Linked DNA regions of Homo sapiens: region 2 is linked to region 1. The links come from fine-mapping of genetic effects on gene expression. Tissue or cell type: whole blood. Region 1 holds a variant in brackets; the other region holds the start of a gene. All regions are shown on one strand. Distances are between the middles of the regions.

Region 1 (8,105 bases):
CTCCCTCTCTCCTCTCAGGTGGCTATGGGTCCACCTGTCCTCCGGACTAGCTCTGGAGCCCCCCCTCCCATGCCTCCTGGAACAATGCTGAGCTTCCCCCGTGTGTCTGCAGGTCCTTTCCAGGCTTGTGGCCTGTGTGGGATCCAGCCTGTGGACTGAGGGTGGCTGTCTCCCTCCAGTGGGACTTCGGGGCCTATCTCCACCTGATCCCCAAGAGGATGGTGTCCTCTCAGAGGACAGTGGGGCCCCAGGAGCCTCCTGCGCTGCCCAGCTGGGGGTGCATGCAGGGCCTGGGGAGAGGCGGTGTCCTGTGGAAGGCTCCTGGGAGGCGCTGTCAGAGTCTCACTCTCAGACTTCCTCCCGCCGCTGTGGGAGGCCTGGCTGTGCCCGCGACGTGTGTGGCACAGCGGGCTGGGTTGCAAAATATATCTGGCATGGCAGTTGGTGAAGTAGTTATGCAACCACCACCAACTTACGGAAACCACCGAGCGATGTGCCTTGCTAGCAGAGGTGCCTGGCTTGGCCACGCTGGCCACAGACTCTGGTTCCGTGTTGGCAGTGTGAAAAGTGGCCCAGGCTGTGGAGTGTCGAGAACCATGACAGGTCTTCCCTGAAGTCACCCTGGGAGCACATGACCCACGAGACCCCGGCAGAGCTGGCATCTTCTCCTCCAAGGATCTCCTTCCCATTCTACAGAATCCAGAAGACAGCCTCATCTGGTTATCAGCAGCCGATCCTCCCTAGGAGGCCCACCTCAGAGGGGACAGGCCCAGCCCGGGGCAAGGGTCTCGAGGAGATAACTGCAAAAGGGAGGTGGCTGGAGGCCCACCCTTTGAGGAGCTGAGGTGGCTCAGCCTGGAGAAGGGCAGTGCTGGGCACCCTCTCACCATCCCTCTAAGGAAGCAAGCGGCCTACAGGGCACAGATGGCAACACTGGGGCTTGTGGGGAACTCCCACAGAGGAAGATTCCAGCTCCATATCCACAAGAACTTCCTCCTGCCCAGAGCTTCCACAGATGAGATGGAATGCTGAGAAGGATGTCCTAAAGGGAACCCCCAGCATGTCTGTGCCCCTGGCCTGAAAGTGCTCTTCACCCATCAGGCTGCTCAGCAGAGTGAGGAGAGGAATTCTGAGACCAAGCAGGGAACCCGGTGAGGAGGAGGCCCCTCCCCTCCCCACTGAGTCCCTCCAGCTCCCCTGAGCCTCCACGTCACCTGCCCCAGGGAGAAGTGGGCTGAGCACGGGCTTTGAAGCCAAACCCACCTGGAGCTGATCCCAGCTCGGCCACCTACCCTCTGTGTGGCCCTGCACAAGTCCCTTCCCTTCTCTGAGCCTCTGAGGATTACATGCCATAACGGACAGGAAGTCCATGCTCAGGAGAAGGAAAGTTCATGTTATTTCAAGCTCACACCTGGCTGCCTTCAGCCCTCAGGCTGAAACCTTGCACATTAGACTCACCACCTCCTGGGCTGATAAAATGGACATCAGGTTGGAATGCATCCTTCTAGATGTTTTCATATGCCCTATGTACATATGTATGCATAGCCAGAGGAGGGTTATGATGCTTTGCACAGTACTCGGTACCTTGCTTTTTGCACTCAAAGATTTGTCTTAGAGACCTATTCATGCTAATAAATAGAGCCACTCATTCTCCTTAACTACTACATTATTTAGTGAATGGCTACATCATGGTTTACTTAGCTCTTCCTCTATGATTGGACACTGACGTTATTCCTATTGTTTCGCTCTTACAAACAATGGCTATCTTCACTGATGCCTTCTGGTGTGTATACACAAAGGCTACTTTGAGAATACCCAAAGAAGGGGAATCTCTATGTCAGACAGGATGCACATTTGTCAGTTTAATAGATACAGGCCAGTGAAAATTCATTAGTAAATAAATACAATTTTCAATTCAGCCGCGTTAACACCAAAGGCAAGTTTCAGGTGTTGTGGGTTTTTTTCTTAATTGTTAAGTTGCCTTTAAAATTCCACAATGAATGCATGCTCCTTGTAAAAAATAGATGCCCATATTTTTTAAGCGCAATTTCCACCCTTCCTAGCCCATTCCCTTCTCCCAGTTGTGAACAGTGGACACATATTTGCTATGCATTTGCAAACACACAAATCAATACGAATTTTTTTACATAAATGAGATATAGATAGACAGATATAAAACTTGATTTTCTACTTTACTGACATATCTTGGACATCTTTCCATGTTAGTAGATTCATATCTGGATCTTTACTTTTAATGGTTACATAGAATTTTATTATAAGAAGGACTATAATAAATTTACTCAGTCTCTTATTGATAGACATTTTCATTCTTTTCCATCTTTTGCTATCATAAACGAAATTGCAGTGAACGTTCTTGCACATGCATCTTTGTAAGCTTTGAAAATACATTGAACTAAAGCAAACAAAACTAATCCTGGAAACGTTGACAGACAGGTGTTAGAAGACAGAAATTCACTACACTTTGGGGAAAGGCTGGTGACTAGGAAGGGATCCCAGAGGGTCTCTGGGATCCTAGGATGGTCTAATTCTGGTTACAAGGGTGTGTTCTGTTTCTGAAAATTCACCAGTTGTGAGTTGTGCGTTTTTCTATATGTATTTTACTTTTCTGTATGTATGTTACATGTAAAATTTTACTTTAACATGGTAAGTGAAAAATATATATATATAAGTTTTTCAGAGGAAATGTGAGAGATGACTGAAACTCTATAACAAGTTAAATTCTTTTTTATTTTAATTTTAGTTTCAGGGGGTACATGTGCAGGTTTGTTTCAAGGTATATTTCAGCCGGGTGCAATGGCTCAAACCTGTAATCCTGGCACTTTGGGAGACCAAGGCAGGAAGATCCCTTGAGGCCAGGAGTTCAAGACCAGCTTGGGCAACATGGTAAAACCCCATGTCTACCAAAAAAAATTTTTAAAAATAGCCAGGCATGGTGGTGTGCACCTGGAGGCTGAGGTGGGAGGACTGCATGAGCCCAGGAGGTCAAAACAACAGGGAGCCATGACTGTGCCACTGTACTCCAGCCTGGGCAACAGAGCAAGACCTTGTCTCAAAAAAAAAAAAAAAAAAGAGGGGAGGGTATATTTCATGATGCTGGAGTTAGGGCTTCTGTTGATCCTGTCACCCAGAGAGTGAACATAGTATTCAATAGGGAGATTTTTAGTCCTTGCCCTTCTCCCTCCCTCCCTCCTTTTGGAGTCCCCAGTGTCTGTTCTCATTTTCATGTCCATGTGTACCCAAGATTTAGCTTCCACCTGTAAGTGAGAACATGAGGTATTTGGCTTTCTATTTCTGCATTAATTCATTTATGATAATAGCTTCCAGCTGCAGCCATGTTGCTGCAAAGGACATGATTTTGTTCTTTTTTATGGCTTCATAGTGTTCCATGGTGTACATGTGCCACATTTTCTTTATCCAATCCACTGCTGATGGATTGACTTTCAAGTTGATTTTATGACTTTCCTATTGTGAATAGGACAAGTTAAATCCTAATTTATGCACAACTTATATACTGAACATGGTTATACAGTTTGCTTGCAGACGTTGAATAAGTAACCAGGGGAAGCATAGGGTGGAATGGAACTAAATGTGCTTAGGGACTTATAATTCCAGGGAGTTCAGAAAAACTTTCCTGAGGAACTAATGTTTAAGCTGAAACCTAAAAGATAATGAAGCCTGTTTCTTCTGTCCTTTTTCTTGTGTTTTCAATCACACCCCATCTTCTCATTTGCCTGGTGATTTTTAATTGCGTGCCAGACATTGTCTATGAAAACCTATAGAGATAATATAAAGTTCTGAATGATGGTATCTTTCTTTAGAAAGGATTTACATTTGCTTCTAGAGAACAGCCAGGGTAGAAACATTACCAGTCTTCGATCATCTCAATCCAATCGTGGAGATAATTCAAAACTAAGCATCAATCCCAATGAGAGATGGCCTATTTCTGATTCACTCTTGCTTGGTTTTTAATAACAGTTCTATTGAGATATGATTCACACACTATACAATTCACCCATTCAAAGTGCAAAATTCAGTGGTGCTTAATATATTCATGGATTTATGCAAGCATTTCTAAATCAATTTTAGAATGTTTTCATAGCTCAAAAAAAAAATTCACATCCTTTAACTATCACCCCTCTTATCACCCCCATATGCCCTACCTCTAAGCAACCACTAATCTACTTTCTGTCCCT[A/G]TAATTTGCCTATTCTAGACATTCAATAAAAATGGGATTATATTCTTTTTGTGACTAGCTCTTTTTGTGGTCTTTCTGTGACTAGCTCTTTCACTTAGCATAATGTTTTCAAGTTTTATCCAAGTAGTAACAAGCGCCAGTATTCCTTTCTCTTTATGACTGAATAATATTCTAGTCTATGGCTATATCACATTTTATTTACCCATTTATCAGTTGATGGACATTTGGGTTGTTTCTACCTTTTGGATATTATGAATAGTGCTTCTGTGAACATTTGTGTACAAGTTTTAATGTAAACATGTGTTTCCACTTCTCTTGGGTAGATACCCAAGAGTAAAATTTCTAAGTCATAGGGTAACTCCACGCTTGACCATTTGAAGAACTGCCAGACTGTTTTCTAAAGTGACTGTACCATTTTATATTCCCACCAGCACTGTATGAGGGTCCCAATTTCTCCATATCCTCATCAACACTTGTTATTTGACTTTTTATTATAGCTATCCTAGTGGATGTGAATCAATGTGTCCTGGTTTTGATTTGCATTTCCCTGATAACTAATGATGTTGATCATTTTTTCACATGTTTATTGGACATTGGTATATCTTCTTTGGAGAAATGCCATTTTGAAATGGCCAAAGGACTTGAATTTGTTTATTTGGTTTTTGTTTTTGTTTTTGTTCTTGTTTTGTTTTTGTTCTTGTTCTTGTTCTTGTTTTTTGAGACGGAGTCTCACCCTGTCGCCCAGGCTGGAGTGCAGTGGTGCGATCTTGGCTCACTGCAATCTCCACTTCCCGGGTTCAAGAAATTTCTACCTCAGGCTCCCAAGTTGCTGGGATTACAGGTGCCCACCACCATGCCTGGCTAATTTTTGTATTTTTAGTAGAGATGGGGTTTCACCGTCTTGGCTAGGCTGATCTTGAACTCCTGACCTCGTGATATACCCTCATTGGCCTCCCAAAGTGCTGGGATTACAGGCATGAGCCACCACGCCCAGCTGTTTATTTGGTTTTTTAAAAAATTATTGAGTTGTAAGATTTTTAAAAATATTTTTAGATACAAGTCCTTTATCAGATACATAATTTGAAAATATTTTATTCCATTCTGTGGGTTGTCTTTTCACTTTCTTGATGGTATCTTTTGAAGCACAAAAGTTTTTAATTTCGACAAATTTCTAATTTTTCTATTTATTTCTTTTGTTGCTTATGCTTTTGGTGTTCAGTCTAAGAATCATTGCCAAATCTGAGGTCTTGAAGATTTACTCCTATATTTCTTCTAATAGTTTTATAGTTTTAGGTCTATTTTTTTCTTTGACAGCTTTAGGGTACAAGTGGATTTTGGTTATATGGATAAACTGTATGGAAGTGAATATTTAGGTCTTTGATCCATTTTGAGTCAATTTTTTATATGGTGTAAGGTAAGGGTCCAACTTCTTTCCTTCGCATATGTCTACCCAGTTGTCCCAGTACCACTGGTTGAAAAAACTATTCTTTCCCCATCTTGGCAACATTGTGAAAAATCAGTTTGCCACCAATGCATGGGTTTAATTCTAGATTTTTATTCTATTCCATTGGTCTTTCTGGCTATCCTTATGCTAGTACCACACTGTCTTGATTACTGTTGCTTTGTAGTACTTTTTTTCTTTTTTTTTTTTAGATGGAGTCTCACTCTCTCACCAGGCTGGAGTGCAGTGGCATGATCTCGGCTCACTGCAACCTCCACCTCCTGGGTTGGAGCAATTTTCCTGCCTCAGCCTCCCAAGTAGCTGGAACTACAGGTGTGCGCCACCATACCCAGCTAATTTTTGTATTTTTAGTAGAGACGGAGTTTCACCGGGTTGGCCAGGATGGTCTCGATCTCTTGACCTCGTGATTCACCTGCCTCGGCCTCCCAAAGTGCTGGGATTACATGTGTAAGCCACCACACCCGGCCTGTAGAGAGTTTTAAAATCAGGACGTGTAAGTCCTCCTACTTTGTTCTTCTTTTTAAGAATTGTTTTTGGCTATTCTTGATCCCCCACAATTCCATATGAATCTTAGAACCAGATTTTCTATTTTACCATTAAAAGAATTCAGCTGTGATTCTGACAGAGACTTTGTTGAATCTGTACATCAATTTGGGGAATATTGTCATTTTAACAATATTAAGACTTCTGATCCATGCATATGGGATGTTCTTCCATTTATTTCTATTTCCTTTTTTTTTTTTTTTTTTTTTTTTTTTTTTTTTTTTTTTGAGATGTAGCTTCGCTCTTGTTGCCCAGGCTGGAGTGCAATGGCTCAATCTCGGCTGACTGCAACCTCTGTCTCTTGGGTTCAAGTAATTCTCCTGCCTCAGCCTCCCAAGCAGCTGAGATTATAGGCATGCACCACCATGCCTGGCTAATTATTTCTATTTTCTTTAGATTGCTTAATAAAAATGTTTTGTAGTTTTCAGATTATATGTTTTACACTTCTTTAGTTAAGTTTATCACTAAGGATTTTAGGTTTTTGGTGCTATTTGCTATTGAATTGTTTTCTTACTTTCATTTTTAGATTGTTCATTGCAAGTGTATAGAAATACAATTGACTTTTATATATTGATCTTGTATTTTACAACCATGCTTAATTCATTTATTAGCTCTAATACTTTTTCTAGTGAGTTAGGATTTTCTGTTTATAATATTATGTCTTCTGTGAATAGAGATAATTTTACTTCTTTCTTATCAATATGAATGCATTATATTTCTTTTAATTGACCAACTAGCCTGCTAGAACCTCTAGTATAATGTTAAATAGAAGTGGCAAGAGTGGGTATCCTTGCCTTGTGTCTGATCCTAGAGAAAAAGTATCCAGTCTTTCATGATTCAGTATGATGTTAGCAGTAGGTGTTTTGTAGATGTCCTTTATCAGGTTGAGGAAGTTCCCTTCTACTACAGGTTTGATGAATGTTTTTATTATGAAATGTTGTTGGATTTTGTCAAATGCTTTTTTCTGCATCTATTGAGATGATCATTTGGTTTTGTCCTTCATTCTGTTGATATGGTGTATTGCACTGATTGATTTTTAAATGTTGACTAACCTTACATTCTTGAATAAATACCCCTTGGTTATAGTGTATAATTTGTTATATATGTTGCTGGATTGAGTCTGCCAGTATTTTGTGTAGGAGTTTTGCATTCATAATCATGAGATATTGGTCTGTAGTTTTCTTCTCGTGTAATTTTTTTGTCTGGTTTTGGTATCAGTGTACTGCTGGCATCATAGAAAGAGTTGGGAATTGTTCTCTCATCTTCTTTTTTTTTGGAGAAAAAGTTGTGAAATTCTTTAAATTTTTGGTAGAATTCACCAGAAGTCATCTGGCCCTGAGTTTCTCTTTGGGAGTAGTTCTGTTGTTGTTGTTTACTAACTCAATCTTTTTGCTTGTTACAGGTCTATTCAGATTGTTTGTTTCTTCTTGAATTAGTTTTGGTAGTTTGTGCCTTTCTAGGAATTTGCCCACTTCATCTAGGTTACCTAATTTTATTAGCATATAATTGATCACAGTTTTCATTTATAATCATTTTTATTTCTGTAAGTTCAGTAGTAACATTCCCTCATTCATTCCTGATTCTAAATATTGAGTCTTTTCTGTCTTTTACTTATTCAGTCCAGCTAAAAGTCTATTTTACATGAATTAGTATAGCCAATCCAGCCCTCTTGTGTTTGCTGTTTGCATAATATATCCTTTTCCAATTCTTTTTTTCAGTCTATTTGTATCTGTAACTCCAAATTGTGGCTCCTTTAGACAAGGTATAGTTGGGTCTTGTTTGTTTTTCCCGTGTGACAATCTCTGACTTTTGACTAGATTGTTTAATCCATTTACATATAATGTTATTATTGATATAATCGGATCTACTTCTGCTATTTTACTTTT
Region 2 (8,105 bases), 900 kb after region 1:
GTTCCCCTGTGTCCTCGGTGCCCAGCCTGGCCCAAAGTGGACATTCAGTACATTTGTTAAGTCTCTTTACAAGGCCCATGTGTTCCTTTCAGAGTCAGCAAATAAGAAAAGTAAACATCATGGTATGGTTTGCATCTGTGTCCTTGCCCAAATCTCATGTTAAATTATAATCCCCATTGTTGGAGGAGGGGTCTAGTGGGAGGTGATTGGATCATGGGAGAGGACGTCCCCCTTGCTGTTCTCATGAGAGCGAGTGCTCACAAGATCTGGTTGTTCAAAAGCATAGCACCTCCCCCTGCTCTCACTTCCTCCTTCTTGGGTTATGTAAGATGTGCCTGTCTTTGCCTTCTGCCATGATTGTAAGTTTCCTGAGGCCTCCCCAGCCATGTTTCCTGTACAGCCTGAGGAACTGTGAGTCAATTAAACCTCATCTCTTTATAAATTACCTAGTCTCAGGTAGTTCTTTATAGCAATGCTAGAACAGATATTACACATCAATAGGGATGGAAGCGAACACTTCTAAACAACACATGTATCATTACTTTGACCACAAGAAAGTTCATTCCCAGCAGGGGATGACTGAGAATGTAGTCATTCATCAAATCAGTATTTATTGAGAATCCCCCAGGGCTTGGTGCTGAACCAGGTGCAGATTAAACTAGGCTGGGCACCTACCGTGGTTCACCTGTTCTCAGTCCACCCAATGGAACAAGGTGGGGCACCCAGAGGGTAACAAGATGTTCTCAGTTGGGGGAGAAATGCTGACTGTGGGACCTGGGAGGGCATCAAGGAAGAGGTGTCTTTGATGTGGACCTTCAAGAATGGTCTGGCTTCATGGGGTGGAGGGGCAGGGATGGGGAAAGGTCAGGAGTGGGATTTGGGGATTTTAGGGTCACCAGACAGTTCCACATGTTGGAAGCCCACTGTGTGTAAAGGAGGAGGTTAGTGGGAAATAAGGTTGGCGTCATCTCAAATGCCAGGCTAAGAGATTGAAACTTTACCCTGCAGGCCACGGGAACACAAAACCTGCTCCCCACAGGTCTTGCTGCTCCCATTTGGGTCCTCCCTAGACCCCCAATCCATGTTCTGCCCTCAGCCAGGAGAGCCTTACAAATGTAAATTCACAGTCTGTCCCTTCCCCATTTGAAACCATTCAATGGATTCTTAGTGCTCTTTGAATAAATACCCGCCTCCTTCTGTGGCCTACAAAGCTGCCTTCACTGGCCCTGCTCCCCACTCTTCCCTTGTCACCTCCCAGCCCCCGCCCCCTCACTCATGTGGTCCCAGCTGCTGTCCTCCTTTCTGTTGTCTGAGGTGCCTTGTTCCTTCCTGGCTCTGGGTTTTCAGTTTTTGCATTTGCTGTGCCCTCTGAAGAGCACTGCATTCCCCAGGGCTTCCCCTGGCCGAGTCATTCTCCTCACAGTTCTAAACCTGCACCAGCCCCTGACCCCACTTTCCAAGGGTGCCTGCCCACCAAACCTCCTCAGGGAGCTTCATTCTAGTGCTCTTTGGAGTCCTGTGTCCATTGACAGAAAGGGAAATGGGCTCTTATAATAAAAGAGGCTGTCATTGTGTAGTTATGGGTAGAGACTATGTGACAATGTTCCTAGGAAATTGGCAAGGAAAGCTCTCAGACGCCAGCTAGTTCAATCACCTGCCCAGGTCAGGGACACTCTCCTCAATGCCACTGGCAGACTTTGCCTCTGTTTATACATCTCCTGTGACGTGGAACTTTCTACTTAACATGGTGGACACTAAACTCTGACTGCTAGAAAATATTTCCTTATATTGACCCAGAATTTGTTTCCCTGGACTTTCTACCCTTTGGTTCTAGTCCTCCCCATGGATGTCCCAGAAAACACACTTGTTCTCTCTTTTCTCAGACAGCCTATAGGTGTCTGGAAACAATTCTACTCTTTCTTGAAATTCTCCCTGCTCTTGGCTTGATTCAATCTCTTGCTATGTCCAATTCTACCTCTCCGGCTATTGTTTTTGGGCCCCTCTTTTCCTGATTACTCCTTAAAGGTTGTTGCTTCCAGGCTTATACCCAGGGTCTCTTCTCTTTTTAAATAATCCCTTCCATTCTCATGTTTCTATGACCTTCTGTATGCTGGGGACATCCATACCAATATTTTTGACTTGGAATTAGCTCCAAGTTTATACCTCCAGTTGTTCCTAAAACATCTCCACTTGGATGGCTTACAGGGTTTTTTTTTGTTTTTTTTTTTTTTTTTTTTTTTGAGACGGACTCTTGCTCTGTTTCCCAGGCTAAAGTGCAGTGGCACGATCTCGGCTCTCTGCAAGCTCTGCCTCCCGGGTTCACGCCATTCTCCTGCCTCAGCCTCCCGAGTACCTGGGACTACAGGTGTCTGCCACCACGACCGGCTAATTTTTTGTATTTTTAGTAGAGATGGGGTTTCACTGTGTTAGCCAGGATGGTCTCGATCTCCTGACCTGGTGATCCGCCCACCTCAGCCTCCCAAAGTGCTAGGATTACAGGCGTGAGCCACGGCGCCCGGCCGGGGATCTTTTTTTATTATTTATTTTTAATTGAGACAGGGTCTTGCTCTGTTCCCCAAGCTGGAGTACAGTGGCTCAATCATAGCTCACTGCAGCCTTGAACTCCTGGGCTCAAATGATCCTCCCAGCTCAGCCTCCTGAGTAGCTGGGACTACAGGTGCATGCCATTAAGCCTAGCTAACCTTTTTTTTTTTTTTTTTTTTGAGATGGTGTCTTGCTCTGTCACCCAGGCTGGAGTGCAATGGCATGATCTTGGCTCACTGCAAGCTCCACCTCCCTGGTTCATGCCATTCTCCTGCCTCAGCCTCCTGAGTAGCTGTGACTACAGGCGCCTGCCACCATGCCCGGCTAATTTTTTGTATTTTTAGTAGAGACGGGGTTTCATTGTGTTAGCCAGGATGGTCTTGATCTCCTGACCTCGTGATCCACCCACCTCAGCCTCCTAAAGTGCTGGGATTACAGGCGTGAGCCACCCCACCAGGCCTGGCTAACTTTAAAAAACAATTTTGTAGAGATGGGATCTCACTATGTTGCCCAGGCTATTCTCAAACTCCTGGGCTCAAGCAATCCTCCTGCCTCAGCTTCCCATAGTGCTGGGATTACAGGCGTGAGATACTGTGCCCAGCTACTGACAAGGATCTTAAACTCAACCAACCAAGACTGGATTTGTCTTTGTGCCCCTTCCCCCACTAACTGGGTCCTCTGAGTACGTTCTCTTATCTCTGTGGAAGACATCTCCATCTACCAGGTCCCCCAGCTGCCAACTTGAGAACCATCTTTATTTGCCTCTTCTGTGTTTCCTGACCAACCAGCCCCCAAGTCCCGTAGTTCCCTCTAGCCTGGGCCTTCTCCCTCACCTCCCAGCATCTTTAGCTTGGGCATTTGACCAGAGCCCTGACCTGTGTGCCTGGGAAAGGTGGCCAGCCTCTCCAGCTCTCCCTGTTTCTCCACTGGGCATTAATGTGTTCAGTGCTGGAGAAGCGGCATGGAGAAGACCTTCAGTCTTCAAGCTTTATAGCCCCCAGCTCTCATCTCCCCACACCAACATTCTGAGTCTGCCAACTCAGTCTCAGGTCTTTTCTGACTGCTCCCAATCCAGTCCTGCCACTCCCAGTGGCCTCTCCATCTCCTGGCTTGCAGTATCTTTTATGATCTTGTCCCTTCTGACCTCTCTCACCTCATTTCCAGAGACACCAGACCTCTTGGGTCATGCTGTTTCCTTGCCCGAAATGCTTTTCCTTCCCCTTTTGGCTTGGAGAACTCCTTTTTATCCTTTAAGCTCCAGTGTAAAGATCTTTTCCAAAAGCTTGGAACTGTTCCTCCCCATCCCATACCCTCAGCACACCTTTTACTCCTGGGTGTCATCCCTGGGCCCGGCATTTACCCCTTCTTATTCTGTAATTATCCATTTATCTCTGTCCTTTACCCGTGAAGCTGCATTGCTTTGCCAAGAACTTGGTCCCCAGCACATTACTGCCAAAACCTTGAAGACTGACGTCTTCTCCATGCCTCTCCTCCAGTACTGAATACATTAATGTCCTGCAGAGAAACAGGGCGAGCTGGAGGGCTCCCGTCACATGGGTCGGGCCTCTGGTTCCTCCAACTAGGCTCAGATAGAAATCTCAGAAATGTACATGACCTGCCCCCGACTCCATGGCAACCCTTCACCCAGAGGGGGTCGGCACAATATCTGTGGCTGAGTTTTTGCCCTCACCCCACTTTCACGCGTCCTTAGGGCGCTGAGCGCTCCCTGCAGACGCTTCTTCCCGGGGCTTACCGAGCAGCGACAAGAACAGACTGTGGTACGCTTCATAGTCGTCGTCCATGGTCGTGGTGCTGGGAGGGGGTGCTGAAGGGCGTGTGTGAATGTGTGTCGATGTGGGCTTGCTTGCGTAGGGGTACCGGGGTATCAGATAAACCGTAACTCCAAGTCGTGCGAAAGGCGCTCAGCTCAGACTGCAGAAGCAACCTGTTGCCGTGGCTACGGACGCCCCGCGCCAATTGGCTGAGCGCTGTCACGTGTTAAGAGCGAGCCCGCCCTGCCGAGCGCCTGCTGGCCCCACCTCGTTTTCGTCCAATTCTGGGAGGGGCAGCGAGCAAATCCACGCCCCGCCCAGTTCTGGGCTTGGTGAAAGGCGGGATTTCTTTGTTCGGCCCAGTAGTCCCTGAATCCAGTGTAGAAAGTCTCCGGTTTTCCCGTGAAATGTGGGATCTTCCGCAGGTCTCCATATCTCTAGGCCTCAGTTTTCTCATAGGAAAAATAGGCCCTGCCTCCTCCAGAGGGTTAGGAAGAACCAAAGTGAGCTGTGGCCAGATAGAGGTGTTGGGTATGTTCTGCCCCGCTTATGGCAGGGTGCCATGGTTTGGAGTTACAGAACCTGAGGACCAGAGAATAATAATAAACCCTTGAAATGTGCATCAACTGATAAGCAAAATGAGGTATATCCATAGGATGGCCATAAGAAGGAATGAAGTACATGCTACAATATGGATAAACCTTCAAAACAGTATGCTAAGCAAGAAGCTAGACACAAAAGGCCACGTGCTGTATGATTCCATTTATGTGAAATGTTCAGCATAGACGAACCCACAGACACGGAAAGTAGATGAATGGTTGCTAGGGGATGGGGTGAGTAATTGAAGTGACTGCTAACAGGTGGAGAGATTCTTTTTGGAGTGGAAAAAAGAAATGGAAACTTCTGGAATTAGTGATGATGGCTGCACACTGTAAATGTACTAAACCACTGAACTGTACACTTTAAAATGGTTAAATGGTGGCTTTTAGCTCAATTTTTAAAAAGTTAAAGAGAAACACCTAAGCCCTTATTCCTTTGCTGAGACAAGCTATCTTTGTGACGCTTGCAAACAGATTGTTGCCATGGGCCACATTCACACAGCACTCTTGCAAGCCAGGTACCATTTTAGCACTACATGTCTGAACTTCATAATTACCATCATTGTGTGAGGTAGACACCACTATCCCATTTTTAAAAGACAAGTTAACAGGTACAGAGGTCAGGCAACCTCACCTGCAAGAAACAGGAAAAGCCAGGCCTAGAGCCTGAGCAACCTGGCTGTGTCCTGAGCTCCCCTGGTGCAGAGCTCGCCTCCTGCATTCACACGGGCCCACACTCCCCATGGAGATGCTGGGGGAAGGTATGTGACCACCAGCCCTACCACAAAGCCACACCTGATGCCCTGAGCTTGGTGAGCTCGCCCCACCCTCCAGGCCCAGCTGGGCCCAAGGTTTCAGAGGCCCCTCTCCACCCTCTTTGGGTGTCTTGTCCCTACTCCTTACCGCTTTTGTTCCCTTCCATTATTAGGTGCCCTTCTTTCTCTCTGTGAGGGTCTGTACAGAACTTGTTTATCTTTGTGCCCCTCCCCACCACAGGGCTTTACACTTTGTGAATGCTACTTGGATGTTTGTTAAATGAAAATGTGATGGTAAACTATAAAGTGGGTTTGCCTTGGGGAGAGGGAGGTGTGGCCAGTTTTCCTGTTCTCTGGTCAAAATCTATCCTTCTAAAAACTGACACTCACTAAAGTGGAAACAACCAACTACCTCTGCATCACACTGCAGCCTGATTCGGTTCACACTGCCCTACAACAAAGGCAGTTTCCTGAACAACTGATTTATTTTTCATTTATTCAATCAATTTAATTTTCAAATTATACCTTAAAATGGTAGTTGGTAATTAAGACATAGTAACTAGTTTTTTCCCTTGGTTTCTTTCTAATAGTAAATGCTTTGGTATTTGAACTGTAACAATACTTGTAATAAAAATGGCATTAAGACTTATTTTTTTTAAGACAGGGTCTTGCTGTGTCATCCAGGCTGAAGTGCAGTGGTGTGATCATAGCTCACTGCAGCCTCAATCTCCTGGGCTCAAGGGATTCTCCCACCTCAGCCTTCTGAGTAGCTGGGACCACAAGTGTATGTCACCATGCCCAATTAATTTTTAAAATTTTTTGTAGAGACGGGGTCTCATTATGTTGCCCAGTCTGGTTTTGAACTCCTGGGCTCAAGCAATCCTCCTGCCTCAGCCTCCCAAAGTGCTAGGATTACAGGTGTAAGCCACTGTGCCTGGCCAAATGGTATAAACTCCAAATGGAAGATGAGAAATGAGTTTTCACAAAGGGACCAAGGTAAAAGAGTGAGTGAGCTGAAATGGAGCAGCAGGCCCATATTCACATTAGGTTATCAAATGGATACTGGGGTGGAATCTACAATTCCTAAGAGCTAGTGTGGAGCTGTCAACAATACACAATGCCAGAGGAATCTTATTTGTCTTTGGGGTCAGCTTTTATTTTTATTTTTTAAATATATATTTTTTGAGACAGGGTCTCTCTCTGTCATCCAGACTGGAGTGCAGTGGCATGATCATGGCTCACTGAAGCCTTGACCTCCTGGGCCCTCATGAGCTCAAATGATCCTCCTGCCTCAGCCTTCCGAGATTACAGGCATGCACCACCACGCCTAGCCGATAAAAATATTTAGTGGGCCCCTAGCTTTAGCAAGGCTGATAGAAATTTGCTTTGTATTATTGATAGTTTAGAACTATTTTTCATCTTCTGATTATATTTCATCATTGGAAAAGCCGTATTTTTTTTGGATTGTTGTCAAATAATAATTTATTTTAAAAAAATCTCAAAACATGTTCAAACACATTCAGTAGCAAAGATCCACCATTGGCACACACATTAAGAAAGCACACACACTAGGCTTCTAGTTGGGCTAATTAAAATCTCTATGGCTGGAAAGGTGGTTGGTTGTACTTAATTAAGCTTTTTTGAAGTGCAAAGCTATGCATAACAGATGAGCTTGAAAGCTGCAGAGTTTAAGATAGACTTAATTTTTCATGATTTTCCCAAAGCCAGTCATGATATTTATTTAATTTGTGGTCTTCAGGGTGCACCTGGAAGAAACATAAGATACAGAGGCAGAGACCTTAATGTAACTTAGTCAGAAATACATTTTTTAAAATTGGCTTTTTAAATGTTTGCTGGGGGACAGTACATTACGATACCATACCTAAAAGTTATAACCTTTAACCTCCTGGGATTCATGAATATTTTAAGTTATACCTTATATTAAGGTAATCTCACACAATTTACAAGGTACTGTCCAAATTACTACTCAACCATGACTTAGAATGTGGGGTGGCGATAACATGAGTCAAGTATTAATACCTCACTTTCCAGAAGGAGGTTCTAGACCGAGAGGTTAAATGGATTCTCAGGTCACAATGGATTGCTCTGATGAAGCTGGGATAGGACCATGGTCCTTCAGTTCAGGCTTGGCCAGACCTACTGGCTGAATGCATGAGGGTGAGTCTCAAGCTGAGTGGGCAGCATACCAGGCCACCCACCAGCTGCCAGGATGACCACCAGCATGCCACAGGCTGGGCATATTCAACAGGGCTGAAGCAGGACCCAGTCACCACAAACGTAGTCTGAGACCACTAAGAGAAACCCAATATGCATACATTGCAGGCCCAAACCTTCCTGCTTTCCTGTAGTGGTGTACTTTTGACAGGAGGAAAACCACGTCAGGCTTAGAGATAGCACACAAATAGGGAATGACA

What was found. PIP is the estimated chance that this variant, and not a neighbour inherited with it, causes the effect.
Region 2: it holds the start of EFCAB12, and the variant in region 1 is fine-mapped to the expression of EFCAB12 in whole blood (INTERVAL, PIP 0.98).

The regions. Positions count from the first base shown.
Region 1 is chr3:128,523,345-128,531,449 of GRCh38, forward strand. No RefSeq gene overlaps it. Among named protein-coding and RNA genes, the nearest start is that of GATA2, 34 kb to the left of the region's middle. RefSeq lists an enhancer at 1,254-1,753. The variant A/G (reference allele first, on the strand shown) is at 4,215.
Region 2 is chr3:129,424,143-129,432,247 of GRCh38, forward strand. It overlaps EFCAB12 (EF-hand calcium binding domain 12), which reads right to left and starts at 4,494. Exons shown (of 9, transcript NM_207307.3): 1 at 4,298-4,494. The coding sequence starts at 4,346. MBD4 (methyl-CpG binding domain 4, DNA glycosylase) reads right to left here. Exons shown (of 8, transcript NM_001276270.2): 8 at 6,805-7,436. The coding sequence ends at 7,359. RefSeq lists an enhancer at 399-448 and a silencer at 4,631-4,680.